2 separate regions of the Homo sapiens genome follow, and region 2 is linked to region 1. The links come from fine-mapping of genetic effects on gene expression. A gene starts in region 1. The other region holds a variant in brackets. All regions are shown on one strand. Distances are from middle to middle.

Region 1 (8,512 bases):
CGTGGGAGAGGAAAGACTTTCATGTGAGACACTGAACCCAAACCAGGGGACACCTAAGACAAACCCTATCTCATCTCCATGATTCAGAAAACCTTCCAGACCAGAGGAGCAGAGATTCCAGCACTTGAACAGTATATCTGACCCGAGTGTGCCAGCAAGCAAAATTACCTTTCCTTTAAAAAAAAAAAAAATTTTATTTTAGAGACACTGCACTCTGTCACCCAGGCTGGAGTGCAGTGGCACGATCATAGCTCACTGCAGCCTCAACCTCCCCGGCTCAAGTGATCCTTCTGCCTCAGTCTCCAAAGGAGCTGGGACTACAGGCACATGCCACCATGCCTAGATTTTTTTTTTTTTTTTTTTTAGAGGTGGGGTCTCGCTATGTTGCTTAGGCTGGTCTTTAACTTGTGTGGCCTCAAACAATCCTTCCACCTTGGCCTCCCAAAGTGCTGGGATTACAGCGGTGAGACTAAACATCCAGCGAAAAAGACCTTTCTTTTACCACATTCTACCAGGTAGTCGAACCCTGGTCCACACTGTGAGTCTTCTCCCTCCTCTCCTGCTGAAGTGTGGCTTCCAGGGGAACAATGACTTGTTAGGGACTCACAGCTAAACATGCACCCAGTCTGGCAGGGTCATGAAGTCCAGCATTCCATAGCCACCACCCTCTCTCCTCTGCCTCCCCTCCGACCAATAAGATCCCTGCTGAAGTCCCAACAAATCACCAATCTCAAAGCCATCCCGTTCTGACAACAATCTCGCAACACTTGCTGAGATAGCTAGAACACACATAACCCGTGAAAACAGGGACAGACGGGTGTCCACCCAGAAACACAGCTGAGAAGGGAGGATGGGCTTCCCCCAAAGCTGACCAAGTTTTCCAGTGCCTTTGTAAAGAGTGATGGAGAAGGTGGAGGAGGAAATTGGAGACAATAAGGGTCTTCCCTCAGATCCAAGGCTTTGAGCAACAACAGACATCCTCTTCCAGGAATAAAAGTCTCAGTGGCCTTGAACATTTCTCTGCTGTGATATGAAAAATAGTGCACTGTCTAAGGTAGTTCTTGGTCCCATAGATTGCTCTGTACCACTTCCTAGGAACAGTGTGTACTGCAAGTTCATGAACAAATAGAGCATTTCTCACCGGGGAGGTCAACTAAGCTCTTTCTACCATGAGCCCAATTTGAAGGTAACCAAATATGCTGGAAGTTGGTTAGCAAAGAACTAGGGCACACTGAAAATCTCTTGACTTGGGGTGAAAAAGGGAAAGTTTCAGAAGATTACAAAAACCCTTTTTGGATTATTCAAAGCAGTTACTAAGGAGAGAGACAGGAGTGAATAAAAGTGTAAAGAGGGACCCACTGACTTCTACCACCTGCTGGTAATTTAAGAAAAACCTTTCCCTCCTGGGAAGAATGTGGGAGCTCTGAAGTGATTAAACTCCTCTGTTGGAAATTAAAGATGCTGATTTCACCAAGGATTGGGAACCCCGGAGCTCTGCTCCGCGCAGTGCTCTTTTACCTCTGCCAAAGCCAGACTTCAGAGAAGCAGCACATTGTCTGAGGCCCAGATCAAAGCCTAGCAAACCAAGCAAACCACAAATCACAGTGATGATCCTGAACTGGGCCTCACATCATGCTGTTCTACTCAGTACTGGTGATGCAGTAATGAAGGCTTTCCACTCTGACTTGCAGTTTTCAGGCCATGAGCTGGTTCTGGCAGAATACACTGGGCAGGGCACAGCAGCTTGAGGGGAGGGGTGGTGAGGGGGGCGGATCCCAACCAAGCTGCTGCCTTCTCAGTTCAGGCCCCAAAGGGCCTCCGCTTGAGGGTGACATAGGGAAGGCAGAACTGCAGGAAGGGAGGTACCAGGTGGAGCCTGCAAAACGTGAAGCATGGTGTGGGAGGTGGCTTTGTGTAACTAGCCAAGAGTGGGAGCGGGATGGGAAAGAGGCCTTAGCATCCTCCGAGAAAGAAACCACCTCTCTAGGAATACTTTAAAAGGGGTTATCTCAGCTGTCTGTGATAGGCTGGGGGGCGGGGGGAAGGGTGGGGGCTGCGGCCATTGCTCACTTCAAAGGAGAAACGACTAGAGCTTTCCTCTCCTCTTTCCTCCCCTCCCCGCCCCCTGTCTGTTTTAACCACGGGGTGGAGGCTCTCTGCCTTTCTCAGAATCGGACTTCTTGAGAGTCCACTCCCAGACTATTAACCGCCTAGGAACTGCGGTCCCCACCCCCCAACTCCAACCCCGGCCGAGAACAGTGGGGAGTCGTCCCCATCACTCCTACACGAGACTACAAAACCCGGAGAGCCGTGCGCGGCAGACAAGGCCGACTGCCAGGTTTTCTCAAGGGTCCACTTGGGGGATGTAGTCCGACGGTCGGGCTGCGCCCCTAGCTTAGAACGGCAACGAAGGCAGTGAGTGACTACAATGCCCACAGTGCTCCACGAAGCGGGGAGCCGGAGAGGTGAGCGCGGCGGCTTCCGGGGACGGTAGTCACACGACAGCCGCAGTTAATGAAAGGCAACGGCAGAGTGGAGCGTGGGAGACTACAAGTCCCATGGTGCATCGCAGGGAGGCGGTAGCCCAAGCCTTGCAGGCCCCAGCGGAATGACCAGGGCGATGGAAGGAAGTCGTGCTCGTTGCGGGCGTGGGGAATGGGCTTACCGGCGTGTCGAAGGAGAAGGCGCACTCGTCTTTGTGGACCCGGTCTCCAGCCTTAGGGACCCGGATCGTCGGTAATACTGACAGCAGCGCCTCCTCACTCAGCTCCGCCATGACACCGGCAGCAGCTTCTCCACACACGGCGGCTCCCACCGTTCCCAGTCCCCTCCCCTGCCCCTCCCGTCCAATGAGCGCCACTCGTTAGGGGCATGCGCCGCGGAGACGACGCGCGAGAATGGCAGTTGGACGGAGCCTGCCTGCCGGTGCTCCGCCCCTGCCCCGCGCTTGACTGACGCCAATGAGAAGCGCTCCTAAGGCAATTGATGGTTGAAAGAACCAATCCCACTCCTCCAGGGCGGGAGCGCACGTAGAGCAGCTAGGTGGGCTTCGGGGTTGCAGCTGCTGCGGCTCCGCAGCTGCTCCGGCTCCGGGACCCTTAGAGTCCATTCGCGTGCCTTCTATTGAAGAGCAGGAACTGACGGTTGTTTTAGGCCTCTCAATTCCAGAAAGTTTCCTGGGGACCTGTCCGGTCGGAAAGTCGAGGGACAGTTGTCTTGGTATTTGTAAAGGGGGTATCCAGTGAGGCGGAGCTTGAGGGGGTTGTGTCGAGTGACTGATACAGCTGTCAACCAATAAAGCTACTATCGCTCGCCTCAGGAAAACCATCACAACTCCAGCTGGATGTGCGCATAATAGTGTAATCACTCATGATTCTATTTTGTTTAATAATTCGTTCTTGAGACTAGACGTCTCGAAAGCGAAGACTGGCACTCCTCAGCCTGCCACGGACGGCTCGCAGGCCGATACTGAACAGAAGTACCCTTATCAAGGAGGCGTCACCCCTGGGCAAGCCTAGCATCAGTCCATTGACACCTACAGTCACCATGATAGACGTTCTCCCAGACCAACAGCTTCCTTTGGCTCGAGGCGGGTCTTACGTGGAGGGCCTATGGGAACTACGTCGGCTCAGCCAATAGGGTCAGGGCAGGGGGCGTGGCGGGAAGTTTGAAACTGGTAACTTCGGGAGTTGAGCCACGAGCTGTTGTGCATCCAGAGGTGGAATTGGGGCCCGGTAAGTGATTTGAATAATTTAATAAATAAGTTAGAGGGCTCAGCAGGCCCAGAACGAGCCATTTTGTCAGCTGCAGCAGTCATTAACTCCGCAGAGGCCTCTGGTCCCTCGCCAGGAAGTTTCTTCACTGGAAACTGGGAAGACAGGGTGGTTTAGGGTTGAAGGTCCGACGTGGAAGAGATAAGGGCTGAGACCTGAGTCACTTCTCACAGGCATTCCCTCCTCGTCCCGGGCTGGCCCTTGCCCCCACCCTGCAACTCCTGGTTGAGATGGGCTCAGCCAAGAGCGTCCCAGTCACACCAGCGCGGCCTCCGCCGCACAACAAGCATCTGGCTCGAGTGGCGGACCCCCGTTCACCTAGTGCTGGCATCCTGCGCACTCCCATCCAGGTACTCTGGGCCAGCGTGGGAAAGGCAGAGAATGTCTGAATTCTTGGGTCTCTTCCTAACCTGATTTTGAGAGAGCCGTCATGACCCCACCCTTATCCTAGCCTTATTTTCTGCAATCTCAATCTGTGTGGGGTAGGCTGGATATCTGAGGGCCTTGGCAATTCCTTCCTGGAATATGGGGAGGAGAGGAGAGAAGAGTCAGGGCCCAGACTTGTTCTAGCCTATGGTCTTGACAGGTGGAGAGCTCTCCACAGCCAGGCCTACCAGCAGGGGAGCAACTGGAGGGTCTTAAACATGCCCAGGACTCAGATCCCCGCTCTCCTACTCTTGGTATTGCACGGACACCTATGAAGACCAGCAGTGGAGGTAAGCGTTGGGCCCAGGGAATGCTGATGAAGCTGTCATCTATTATTCTTGGGTAGGGTCCATGAAGCCATTCTCTCAGGGTTCCTTAAAGGGGCCTCTATCCTCCTGCTTCGGACCCATCTCACTCTTATCTCAATATTTTGTTCCCAGCCTGGGTGCGGTGGCTCATGCCTGTAATCCCAGCACGTTGGAAGGCCGGGGTGGTCAGATCGCTTGAGCCCAGGAGTTCAAGACCAGCCTAGGCAACATGGCAAAACCCCATCTCTAGAAAAAATACACACACATAACACACACACACACACACAAAAGCACGGTGGCATGGGCCTGTGATCCCAGCTACTCAGGAGGCTGAAGTGGGAGGATTGCTTGAGCCCACAAGGTCAAGGCTGCAGTGAACTGTGATCACGCCACTGCACTCCAGCCTGGGGGACAGAGCAAGCCCCATCTCAAAAAAAAAAAAAATTGCTCCCTTTCACCTTGATTTCCTTGATTTCTCTCTTCCCACTTGCTCACCCTCCTGGGCATGAGTCCTGGGTTTCTGTATGTTTTGCTCCTTGCTGAATGTTGTGTATCAGAAGGTCACTGTTCACTTCACTTTCTTCCTCTAGACCCCCCAAGCCCACTGGTGAAACAGCTGAGTGAAGTATTTGAAACTGAAGACTCTAAATCAAATCTTCCCCCAGAGCCTGTTCTGCCCCCAGAGGCACCTTTATCTTCTGAATTGGACTTGCCTCTGGGTACCCAGTTATCTGTTGAGGAACAGATGCCACCTTGGAACCAGACTGAGTTCCCCTCCAAACAGGTGTTTTCCAAGGAGGAAGCAAGACAGCCCACAGAAACCCCTGTGGCCAGCCAGAGCTCCGACAAGCCCTCAAGGGACCCTGAGACTCCCAGATCTTCAGGTACAGAATCTAAGGCAAGATGCAGGGAAGATAAACTAGGATAATGTTTTGGGATAAGGTCCATGGGTGAGTGTGGGAGGAATAAACTGTAAGTCCTAGTTTTGGGTCCTTGCTTTAACGCCTTACCCACCCCAGGTTCTATGCGCAATAGATGGAAACCAAACAGCAGCAAGGTACTAGGGAGATCCCCCCTCACCATCCTGCAGGATGACAACTCCCCTGGCACCCTGACACTACGACAGGTAAAGGAAGAGAAAGTGCAAGCTGTTACTAGGATATCCAACGTAGAGGGTGGGAGACCCTTTTACCCAGATCTTCCCTCTTCTGAACAGCAACTCCCCCCAACTCATACACTGCCGTTTTCAGGGTAAGCGGCCTTCACCCCTAAGTGAAAATGTTAGTGAACTAAAGGAAGGAGCCATTCTTGGAACTGGACGACTTCTGAAAACTGGAGGACGAGCATGGGAGCAAGGCCAGGACCATGACAAGGAAAATCAGCACTTTCCCTTGGTGGAGAGCTAGGCCCTGCATGGCCCCAGCAATGCAGTCACCCAGGGCCTGGTGATATCTGTGTCCTCTCACCCCTTCTTTCCCAGGGATACTGAGGAATGGCTTGTTTTCTTAGACTCCTCCTCAGCTACCAAACTGGGACTCACAGCTTTATTGGGCTTTCTTTGTGTCTTGTGTGTTTCTTTTATATTAAAGGAAGTAATTTTAAATGTTACTTTAAAAAGGTATATGTAAACCTTGCACCGAGTTTTCTGTGTGTAGAATGGCGGCCTAGAGAGCTTGCGTTCCCTGGCCTGAGCCCACTGATGCTCTGAGCCTTCTTTGCACATCTCCCTTTAACCATGGTGTCCCTATGGCTCTGTCCTTGGCCCTGCTCTCCCTGGGTGTTTACTTCTAGGGCTTTAGCTATCACTTCCCTATATTCTGGTAACTTTCAGGTCTCTCTCTCTAACCCTGACCTTTATCCAGCTGCTTTATAAGTACTTCAAAGTCAGTTTGTCTAAAACTGAATTTATGATCTTCCCCCAAAAGCTATTCCTCATTCCCTCTTCCCTATCCTTGTGAATGACAGCATTATCTACCCAGCCACCAAACCCAAACCTTGGCCATTATCTCGAATCCTTCCCTCCCAATGTCCTATATCCTAGCATTTGGTCACTAAATCCTGGTGATTCCACATTTTGTTTGTTTGCTTGTTTTTTAGAGGCAGGGTCTTGCTCTTGTCACCCAGGCTGGAGTGCAGTGGCACGATCACAGCTCACTGCAGCCTCAACTTCCTGAGCTCAAGCGATTCTCCTGTCTCAGCCTCTCCAGTAGCTGGGATTATAGGCATGAGCCACCACGCCTGGCTAATTTTTGTATTTTTTTTATAGAGATGAGGTCTTGCCATATTGCCCAGGCTGGTTTCAAACTCCTAGGCTCAAGTGATCTGCCTGCCTCAGCCTCCTGAAGTGCTGGGATTACAGGCATGAGCCACCATGCCCAGCCTGCCCAGGTAATTTTTAATTTTTTTTGTAGATACAGGGTCTTACTATGTTGCTCAGGCTTGTCTCAAACTCCAGACCTCAAGAGATCCTTCTGCCTCAGCCTTCCAAGGCTCTGCGATTACAGGCATGAGCCACTGTTCCAGCTGATTCCACATCTTTAATCTCTTCCTAATCCCTCTCCCTAACCCCTCTGTCCTGTCGCTCTTGCATTTCTTGCCACCTGCCTCCTACCTTGTTTCCCCAGTGCCAGTCCCTCCCTTTCATCAACCTACACTGCTTCTTTCTGAAAGATCTGGAGCAATCTTTCTGAGAAGCATAACTGATCATGTTACTACTCTGCTCAGAACTCCTCAATGGCTTCTCATTGCCCTTAGGAAAAAGTCTGGACTCTCTGGCTTGACATTCAAGACCTTTTATAATCTGATTCCTTCTCAAGCTAACCCTCCCGTACAAACACATGGGCACCACAGGCAGGCCATAGCGAACTGCTGCACACAGTCCCCCAGCCACCTGCTGAATACCTTCTCCCCCTGACCCATCTCAGGCCTCCTCCCATAAGCCCACAAGCTATCCAGTACCCAGCCTTTATCACAGCACCTGTAACACATTACTGCCCTTAAATGGGACCTGGGTCTTTTTGGAACAGAAGAGAGTAGAAGGCAAACATCACAGATGTACCAGGGTGCTACACTTTATTGCAGGTGTCTTAGGAGAGAAAAAAAGGTAGAAAAAGGAGAAAGCATGAATAAGAAGAGGGCCAGGACCCTAGTGGTGCCAGAGCCATAGTCACAGGGCCAAACGCCCTATACCACCCAGGCCTGGACAAAGGTAGTGGCTCTGGGGGAGGAATCCTAGGGCCTGGGGCCTCAGACTCAAGTCTGCTGGGCCTGCAAAGGGCTGGGGAGGGGCAGGTTGTCCTTGCTCATTAAGGGAGAGGCTGTGAGGACTGTGGGGAGGGAAGGCCATGGGAGGAGATGGGGCAGTTCTTTGCCCCTGTGTCCCTGATGCTGCCTCCCAAAGGCACAGTCCCATGCTCCCCACTGCCCTCAAAGGAGAAAGCTTAGTGGGAATGGCACCCGGAATATAGAAGAGAACACCTGAATGAGATGGGGTCGGGCAGGGGGCTGCTGAGTGTGTTCACTGCCTTCCACTTCCCTTTCTCCAGCCTCCTCAGTTCCAGATTTTGAGGAAGCTGTCCCAGGAACCTGTGGCCACAGCCATCCCGTCAGCTGTGACTCCCAGGCAGCTCACCCTGTTATCGTGGCCAGAGAGGATGCCTGAGGAAGAGGGAAAGGAGTCAGCCTGTCTCTCCAAGCTGATTTGGAAAGCAGTGTGTGCATGCGTGTAAGTGTATGTGTGGGTGTGTGGGTGTGTGTGTGTATGTGGGTGTGTGGGGGGATATGTGTGCATGTGTATGCATGTGTGGGTGTGTGTACGTGTGTGTGTGCATGTGTGCTTGAGCACATGCATGCAGGGATCCTAGACTCGGTAGACTGGGCTCAACCCCTGAAGAAGGCTAAGAGACTGAAAGAGGATTAGCTGTAGGGCAGGGGGTTCTCTGTCAAGAGCTTTGGTTGGGGGAGGGCTGGGATCAGACAGAGAAAGGCTGGAAGCATCTGTGTACT
Region 2 (8,000 bases), 240 kb before region 1:
TATGTCTAGATCTATATCTCTACATCTCCATCGCTGTCTCTGTCTAGAGATAGAGATATCGACAATGAGAGAGAGAGGGAGGTAAGAGATAGAGATGATGGAGATAGATGAGCTAGCGATAGAGACATATCCACAGAGGAAAACCTACCACTACTTTAAGAGAGAAATCTTTTTCCCAAGAATCAAATCCTTAAAGGAACAAACACTGTAACCGACTATATCCTCAATAATTGTTTTAAAACAAACGCAGCAGCATTTCATATGGCATTTTTTTCCTTCTTGGTATGAGTCAAGGACAAAACAAAGTCAAGGACATAACAAAAATGTGTGAGTAAAGGTTATTTTGAATGGTTGGGCAGAGTGGAGACAGGGCTGGGACTGAGCTAATGACATCCAGGTTTGCCGCTCTCCAAGCGTGTTGCACAATGCCAACGCAGAACTGAGAATCCCTAGGATGGACGGAAGAGCTTCAGCTAAGACTTACCTCCTTACCTGTTCCCTCTGCCTCCATTATGAACATACGGCACATGCGCGCGTGCACACACACACACACACACAAACTGCTGCTAGGATATTAATGTGCAGTTTGTTAGACGAGATTCCCCTTCCTTCTCGTCCTCTGATCTGGTGCTTTTCCTTCTCCCCCATCTTTTGTCTTTCCTGATCTAACAAGGCTGTGGATCATATGCTGATCCCATCACAGACCAGCCCTCCGTTAGGTTCAGTCCTCAGCTCTGACACACAGGCCTGCTGGAGAAACCCTCCAAGCGTTGGTGGATCTTGCACCTTCTGTGTGCCTGCTGTCTAACTACTGATGATGTGGTCACTGCCTGATGGGGAACTGCATCAGCTCTGTGAATTCTTGCAATCTATTGCCTGGGAAAGTGTCTTGCACATTAAACAGGTAGCCCATAAATGGATGAACGGGGGTGGGGGCAGAAGGGTGGAGGTTGGAGGGATTCATCTAATAAGGGAAACAAGCAGAACAGCCTACAAAGGCTTAAGAACGCAGAGTCCTGCTCTGCAGCCCAAGCCCCTCCGTGGGATGAAGTGCCATCAGATATTTGGTGCCATGGAGAGTTGATGAAGAAAGCCTTCCAAAAACAATGAAATTGTTTTTTAATTTATTTTAACTTTTAGAGACGAGATCTCACTATGTTGCCCAGGCTGGTTTCGAACTCCTGGGCTCAAGAGATCTTCCCACCCTGGCCTCGAAAAGTGCTGGCATCACAGGCATGAGCCACCACACGTGGCCAAGAGCAAAAGTTTTAAAGCAGGACACTATGGCCTGATGGACAGGAGAGACTAGGGTCCCTCCTCCCTCCCAGGGGCCTGGCTTCATCTCAGAAAAACCGAGTCCCTCTTGCTCCACACCCGCATCCTTAGCTTCAGCCCTGGCAGTTGTGTTGAGCAGATGCTAAGGAGATGGGGACATTTTACCCCCTCCGCAGCCGCCCCAGAGGGTCTCAAACCCAGGGCTGATTTAGGGTTGCCCTGACATGGCCAACCCTATTCTATGTCCAAGTGTCATTCATGGCTAAAGCAGGCCAGGGCCCCAAGGCAACCAAGCTCCTCTCTCCTCTGCCCGCTCCCACACACCCTCCTCTGCCCCAGTGTTCCTATCATTACGTCCTGGGCATTGAAACCCGGGCCATTCTTGGACCAGGGCTGTGGGCTGAATGAGGGCAGGAAGAACAGGGTCAATGGGAAAGGACAGCCCAGAAAAGAGAATTCACCACCACCTGTGGTCTCCCACTGCTTTGGTAGGAACCTTGTAAACACAGCAGCAGCCCCCAGGAAAGTCTTGGAAGAAGGGAGAAGCTGATCAGATTTAGAGACTGAGACATCTGGGCCTCCAACCCAAGGCTCCCCGGGCCCTAAAAAGCCAGACTCCCGTCTCCTTAGCCCTTTCCCTCACCGACCAGCAGGTGGCACCACAAACAGGGATTTCAAAACCAAAACTAAATTAAAGTGGAAACTCAGATCTTTTGTTTATGCAAATAGTTCATTCCCTCCAACATTCCTCCGGGAATGGTCCCCCCTCCACTCCACAGAAAACCCTCCCCTCCCTGCTGTGCATGACGCGGGCTCCCTCTGCACACAGTGCACGAAGACGCTGTCGGGAGAGCCCAGGATTCAACACGGGCCTTGAGAAATGTGAGTAAGGGTGATGGGCAACCAGGTGGGAGGGAGAAGCCAGGGGAGAAGCCAGGGCATGGGAGGCAATTCAGGGAGACAGGAACACCCTTCTCTCTTCACACACCTCATCAGTTCCACTGTGCACACGCGTGGACACACACAACACACGCCCCATCCCTCCTCCTAGGGATCAGAGGAGACTTCATACATAGATGCTCATGCCATGGTCCTTTCTTCCCTCTGGGCTCTTGGCAGGGAGCAGCGAGAGGAGGGGACCCCTTGCCCAGGACGGGACACTCTGTGCCTGTGTCCCCCACTCCACAGATGGTTTCTCCCAGACGCTCTTGCTGAACCTGTGGGAGCCCTTTCAGAGACCCACGGGTGGAAACCCTCACCCTCCATTAACTGGTCCCAAGCCAGTCCTATTCCTGGAAGGGGAGGGGAGGGACGCGTCCGGGCAGGGGAGGAGGCTGGAAAGGGAGTGTGAGGGGAGTGTGGTGGCCTCTGGACTGGACACTGCCCTGGAGAGTGACCCGATGCAGCAGCTGCACAGGCCATCCTCCCCACCCACGCACCCCTGCTGAGAACATGTCTGTGAGGTTCAGGGTGGGCAGAGAGGAGAATGCCCAGTGGTATGGCCGTCTCATCCCCTGCCACAGCCACTGCCCACATGGCAAGAGTGCTGAACCCCTCCAGCTCCAGATACTCTCTTTTGTTTTGGCAGGTGGCTCTTGTACCTCCTGGTGCCGGCCCTGTTCTGCAGGGCAGGAGGCTCCATTCCCATCCCTCAGAAGTTATTTGGGGAGGTGACTTCCCCTCTGTTCCCCAAGCCTTACCCCAACAACTTTGAAACAACCACTGTGATCACAGTCCCCACGGGATACAGGGTGAAGCTCGTCTTCCAGCAGTTTGACCTGGAGCCTTCTGAAGGCTGCTTCTATGATTATGTCAAGGTAGGGGCAGGATGGGCGGGCAGAGGGGAGACAAAACTGGGCCCTCTGGGATCTGGGATCTGTATGGCATGCACACCCCCAGACACAGCCCAGCCCCACAAGAGCTGATGGCCAACGGCCTCTCTGAGAGCCCGGGGATGCCCTGGATGGGCGCTCACTGGTGTAGAGGCCCTCGGTGAGCACTGAGGGGAGAAGCACAGAGAAGGAAGGGGACAGGACCCACTCAGGAAATTCAACATCCACTGAGTCAGGAAAACCTTCCCCATCTGCTGTCTAGCTGAGAGTCTTTGGGAAACCACTGTGCCTCAGCTTCCCTGTCTCCAAGGAAATGATTGACATGGCTGCCTGCTTCAACAGGAACACAGGGACATGAGGAGGAGAAATGTGGGCTCTGGCAGCACAGGAATAGCCTTCAGCAAGGACAGTGTGCTCAGAACCCTCACCTCTGTGGCAACCAAGGGTACCTTCCCAGGCCTGTCTTTCTCTATCCAGTAAAAATGAGATTCAGGGCTCAAGCAGAGCCTGCGAAGGTCCAACAACTACCATTCCCAGGAGACCCCTGGAGATTATGCGTGAATTACATGACAATGGCACGTCTTACCGGCTCAGAAGACTTGGCGAGTGTGCAGTGTTGGGGGAGGGCGTTTGCTGGCAGAGTCAAGGAGAGGTTGAGGAGGCTGTGAGGAGGAAGGAAGAGGGACGAGGCAGTGCCTGCTGACACTGAGATGGGTGGGCTTCAGGGCTCATGTTCCGCCGAGGGCATCAGGAGGCACTCGAGGTGTGAATGGTTTGATTAGGCTGAGGTGGAATCTGAAGACAGAAAATAAAGCGGAGCTGTCTGAGCTCTGGGAATGAGGGGCAGGTAAAGGCTGGGTACAGACAACCAGGACCCCAGGGGAACAGGCCATAGGAGGTGGTGGGGATGGAGAAGGACCTGAAACCTGCCAGAGGAGCAGAAAACAGGGAAAGGGTGAGGTACCCAGTCCAGGACAACACGCAAAGAGTGAGTCAGTGGGAGACTCAGGGAACAGCTGAAAGTCACATGGGGAAGTTTGCAGCAGCTGAGCCCAGCAGGTAGTGACCAGCCAGAGCCA[T/C]TGTGGTGCATGATGCACTCTGGGCGAGACAAGGAGGACCATCACTGAGCCACCACGTGCGCCACTCCGCAACAGATCTTCTTCCTACCCCCTGTCCTTCTTCCACCAGATCTCTGCTGATAAGAAAAGCCTGGGGAGGTTCTGTGGGCAACTGGGTTCTCCACTGGGCAACCCCCCGGGAAAGAAGGAATTTATGTCCCAAGGGAACAAGATGCTGCTGACCTTCCACACAGACTTCTCCAACGAGGAGAATGGGACCATCATGTTCTACAAGGGCTTCCTGGCCTACTACCAAGCTGTGGGTGAGTAGCCCCCCAGGGATCCCTTTTCTCTGACCTCAGCCATATTGAATGGGGGGCCAAGAAAGGGAATCTTGAATGCAAAGAAGCCGAAAGCCTGGCTTTCCTTGTTCCTCCCCTCGAGAGAGCTTTTCCTAACGAGGCCTGTCAACCTGGGCTCTGTCCCCATGGAGCAGTCCCCAGAGAGCATTGGAGAGGCCTGGAGGTCCAGGTGGCCTAAAGATGCCTTTGTCTTTAGGTCTCTGGTGAGTGACCTCCCTAAGATCAGAGCCACTACTCAGGTCTCCCAGCAGAAGCTTAACCCTCCTTCCTGAATGCCTTCCAGACCTTGATGAATGTGCTTCCCGGAGCAAATCAGGGGAGGAGGATCCCCAGCCCCAGTGCCAGCACCTGTGTCACAACTACGTTGGAGGCTACTTCTGTTCCTGCCGTCCAGGCTATGAGCTTCAGGAAGACAGGCATTCCTGCCAGGGTGAGCCAGAGTGGTGTAGCAGAGGGGAAGGGGTTGAGCCAGGGCTTGCTGGGCCAGCTGGAGTCCCCCGTAATGCCCTGTGGCTCTGCTCTCACAGCTGAGTGCAGCAGCGAGCTGTACACGGAGGCATCAGGCTACATCTCCAGCCTGGAGTACCCTCGGTCCTACCCCCCTGACCTGCGCTGCAACTACAGCATCCGGGTGGAGCGGGGCCTCACCCTGCACCTCAAGTTCCTGGAGCCTTTTGATATTGATGACCACCAGCAAGTACACTGCCCCTATGACCAGCTACAGGTACAGCCGTCCTACCCCTGAAAGACCCCTTCCTCCCCTTCTGTCTGCACTTGGCTCCTCTTGTCCCAACTTCCTCCTGGATCCCCTGGCCAGCTGGGGCAGGAACGGCCAACATCACCCATGGGCTGGGTAAGTTCCCACACAACTAGAATTGGGTCATGGGGATCCCTTTTCACCTTCCCCTGAAAACACACATAAGGCAGGATTTCATCACCACCACCACCACCCTGGCCACCAGGCTACTACCCAGTTGGCCCTGTGTAAAAACGTCCAAGCTGAAAAAAAAAAACCCTCCTCCCCTACTAGATCTATGCCAACGGGAAGAACATTGGCGAGTTCTGTGGGAAGCAAAGGCCCCCCGACCTCGACACCAGCAGCAATGCTGTGGATCTGCTGTTCTTCACAGATGAGTCGGGGGACAGCCGGGGCTGGAAGCTGCGCTACACCACCGAGAGTAAGGCTCCCTGCAGGCCTCCCTCGATGGCCAGCAATGGGGAAAAGGGGGGAAGAAGGAAGGACAAGTGGCTCTGAAATAAATATGCCCCCTGGTCTCCCCAACAGTCATCAAGTGCCCCCAGCCCAAGACCCTAGACGAGTTCACCATCATCCAGAACCTGCAGCCTCAGTACCAGTTCCGTGACTACTTCATTGCTACCTGCAAGCAAGGCTACCAGCTCATAGAGGTAAGAGCCCAGGGCTGAGGGGAGAGAGCCGGCCCAGCACCCCAGGAGGAATTCAGGTGGTGGGTTCACAGAGGATTTAGTCTCACCCCAGCTGGAGTCGTAGACGTTTCAGCTGGAAGAGTCTCCTGGTCCACCAGCTCTCAAACTTGCTGCACACTTAAAACAGAGAGTTTAAAATCCTGGAAGATTGCTTGAGCCCATTCATTCAAGGCCCCTGTGAATAGCCACTGCACTCCAGCCTGAGCAATATAGCAAGACTCTGTCTCTGAAAAATAAAAATAAGCAAATAAATACTGAAGATGAGGGCCCCCAACAGAGACTCTGATTCCATTGATCTAGAGTAGAGCCTGAACATCAAGACTATTTAAAGCTACCCAGGTGATTCTAATGCACAGCCAAGTTTAAGAACTATTGCCCTAGTCCAATAACTCAAGAGAGCTGAAGGAACTGAAAAGGCAGGGTGGAGATGTAGTGACTCGTCAACATCACGTAGCGATTGTGTACGGCAGGGACTAGGACGCCAATCTCCTGCCTCCTGCTCCGGGGCTCTTTTACACATGTTGGTGGTCTCCCCCTGCGCCCACCGTCCTGTCCTCGGCTCTGCAGATTCAGGAGGGAATATGGTTTTATCCATTGATCAATCTCACAAAAGCTGGTAAACTAAAAATCTCTGTCTCTGGACAGAGACCCAAGACTGGACATCCCATCGTTGTTCAACAGGTCCACATGGAACACTTAATCAGAATCAAAGAAGAGACCTAGGATATGTCCTTAAGTCACAGTTAATTCATTTAATGCACACTTTAAGTGTCTACTGTCAGGCACTGTCCTAGATGTGGGAGGTTCAGTAAAAAGAAACCCACATAGTCACACAGCCTTTGTGGAGCTCACATTTGAATGTTGCATCAAGTCGAGTTCACCTGATGCATTGTTCTTTACTCCAAGGTGCTTCCAGCTCCATCAGGAGGATTGGGTGGGTGTCCTGGGTCCAGAAGAATGGAGACTACCAACCTCTTTGCTCCTATTACAACCCTCCCTTGCCTGCACCACCCACTGCCCTTACTTTTGCATTTGTTATTCACATCATAGAATTTAAAGCAAGTCACACGGTTTCTCACATTACCTACATTTTACTCAGACGTTCTAGTTCTCATACACATTCTCTTACAACCTTTTCCAGGGCTAACTCCATGGAATGATTTTTGGTCTTTTTGTTTTGTCTTGTTTTGTTTTTGAGAGAGAGTCTTGCTCTGTCACCCAGGCAGTGGCATGGTCTCAGCTCACTGTAAACTCCGCCTCCCAAGTTCAAGTGTTTCTCCTGGATTCAAGCTATTCAAGTGCCTCAGCCACCCGAGTTGCTGGAATTACAGGCGTGCGCCACCATGCCCAGCTAATTTTTGTATTTTTAGTAGAGACAGGGTTTCTCCATGTTGCCCAGGCTGGTCTCGAACTCCTGGCCTCAAGTGATCCGCCCACCTCAGCCCCCCAAAGTGCTGGGGTTACCGGCGTGAGCCACTGCACCTGGCCGAATTTTGGTCTTAGTAAAACTTATTCATTTGTCCAGTAACTTTTCATTTCAAAGACTGCCATTTCCTAGTCTTGTCCCTGCTCAATAGCAACAGCACTTCACATACATCAACGTCTCCAGCACCTTTCAAAGCTGCGAGGTGGCTCTAGTATTTTAGGGAAGGCCTCTGTCCTTAGGAAAACTGCAACCCAGGAGAGATAAAGTGATGCACGCCTGGAGGCAGGGGACACCAGCAAGAGAAACACAGTTCTGCCCTGGAGCACAGGCTTTTGTTTTGATACAGAAAACACTCAAACGTGGCTTGTGATTTTTTCAAATTACAAATTGTGGGATTCAACTGGACCTCAGTAGGAACAGGCCACAGTCTAGAGAGAGGATGATCAGGTCTATCAGTTAGCTCTGCTCTGACTTGCTGTGGTGTGGCTCAATGCTCCTGTCTGTAATGGGCTGGGGAGAAGGAAGAAGGAGCCACATCCATGGGGGAGCCACATCCATGGGGGAGCCACATCCATGGGGGAGCCAAGAGATGTCTTGGTAT

What was found.
Region 2: its variant is fine-mapped to the expression of CDCA3 in gastroesophageal junction (GTEx, PIP above 0.99).

The regions. Positions count from the first base shown.
Region 1 is chr12:6,846,444-6,854,955 of GRCh38, reverse strand. CDCA3 (cell division cycle associated 3) reads left to right here and starts at 3,670. Exons shown (of 6, transcript NM_031299.7): 1 at 3,670-3,734; 2 at 3,947-4,123; 3 at 4,360-4,489; 4 at 5,098-5,391; 5 at 5,527-5,633; 6 at 5,758-6,128. The coding sequence starts at 4,004. The coding sequence ends at 5,913. It overlaps GNB3 (G protein subunit beta 3), which reads right to left. Exons shown (of 10, transcript NM_002075.4): 10 at 7,563-8,164. The coding sequence ends at 8,058. It overlaps USP5 (ubiquitin specific peptidase 5), which reads right to left and starts at 2,806. Exons shown (of 20, transcript NM_001098536.2): 1 at 2,666-2,806. The coding sequence starts at 2,776. RefSeq lists silencers at 1,815-1,864, 2,835-2,944, 3,615-3,664 and enhancers at 2,145-2,784, 3,055-3,104, 2,208-3,168, 3,175-3,454.
Region 2 is chr12:7,086,544-7,094,543 of GRCh38, reverse strand. C1R (complement C1r) reads left to right here and starts at 2,099. Exons shown (of 11, transcript NM_001733.7): 1 at 2,099-2,157; 2 at 2,864-3,092; 3 at 4,296-4,488; 4 at 4,811-4,957; 5 at 5,055-5,251; 6 at 5,558-5,705; 7 at 5,813-5,934. The coding sequence starts at 2,156. RefSeq lists an enhancer at 1,757-2,051. The variant T/C (reference allele first, on the strand shown) is at 4,187.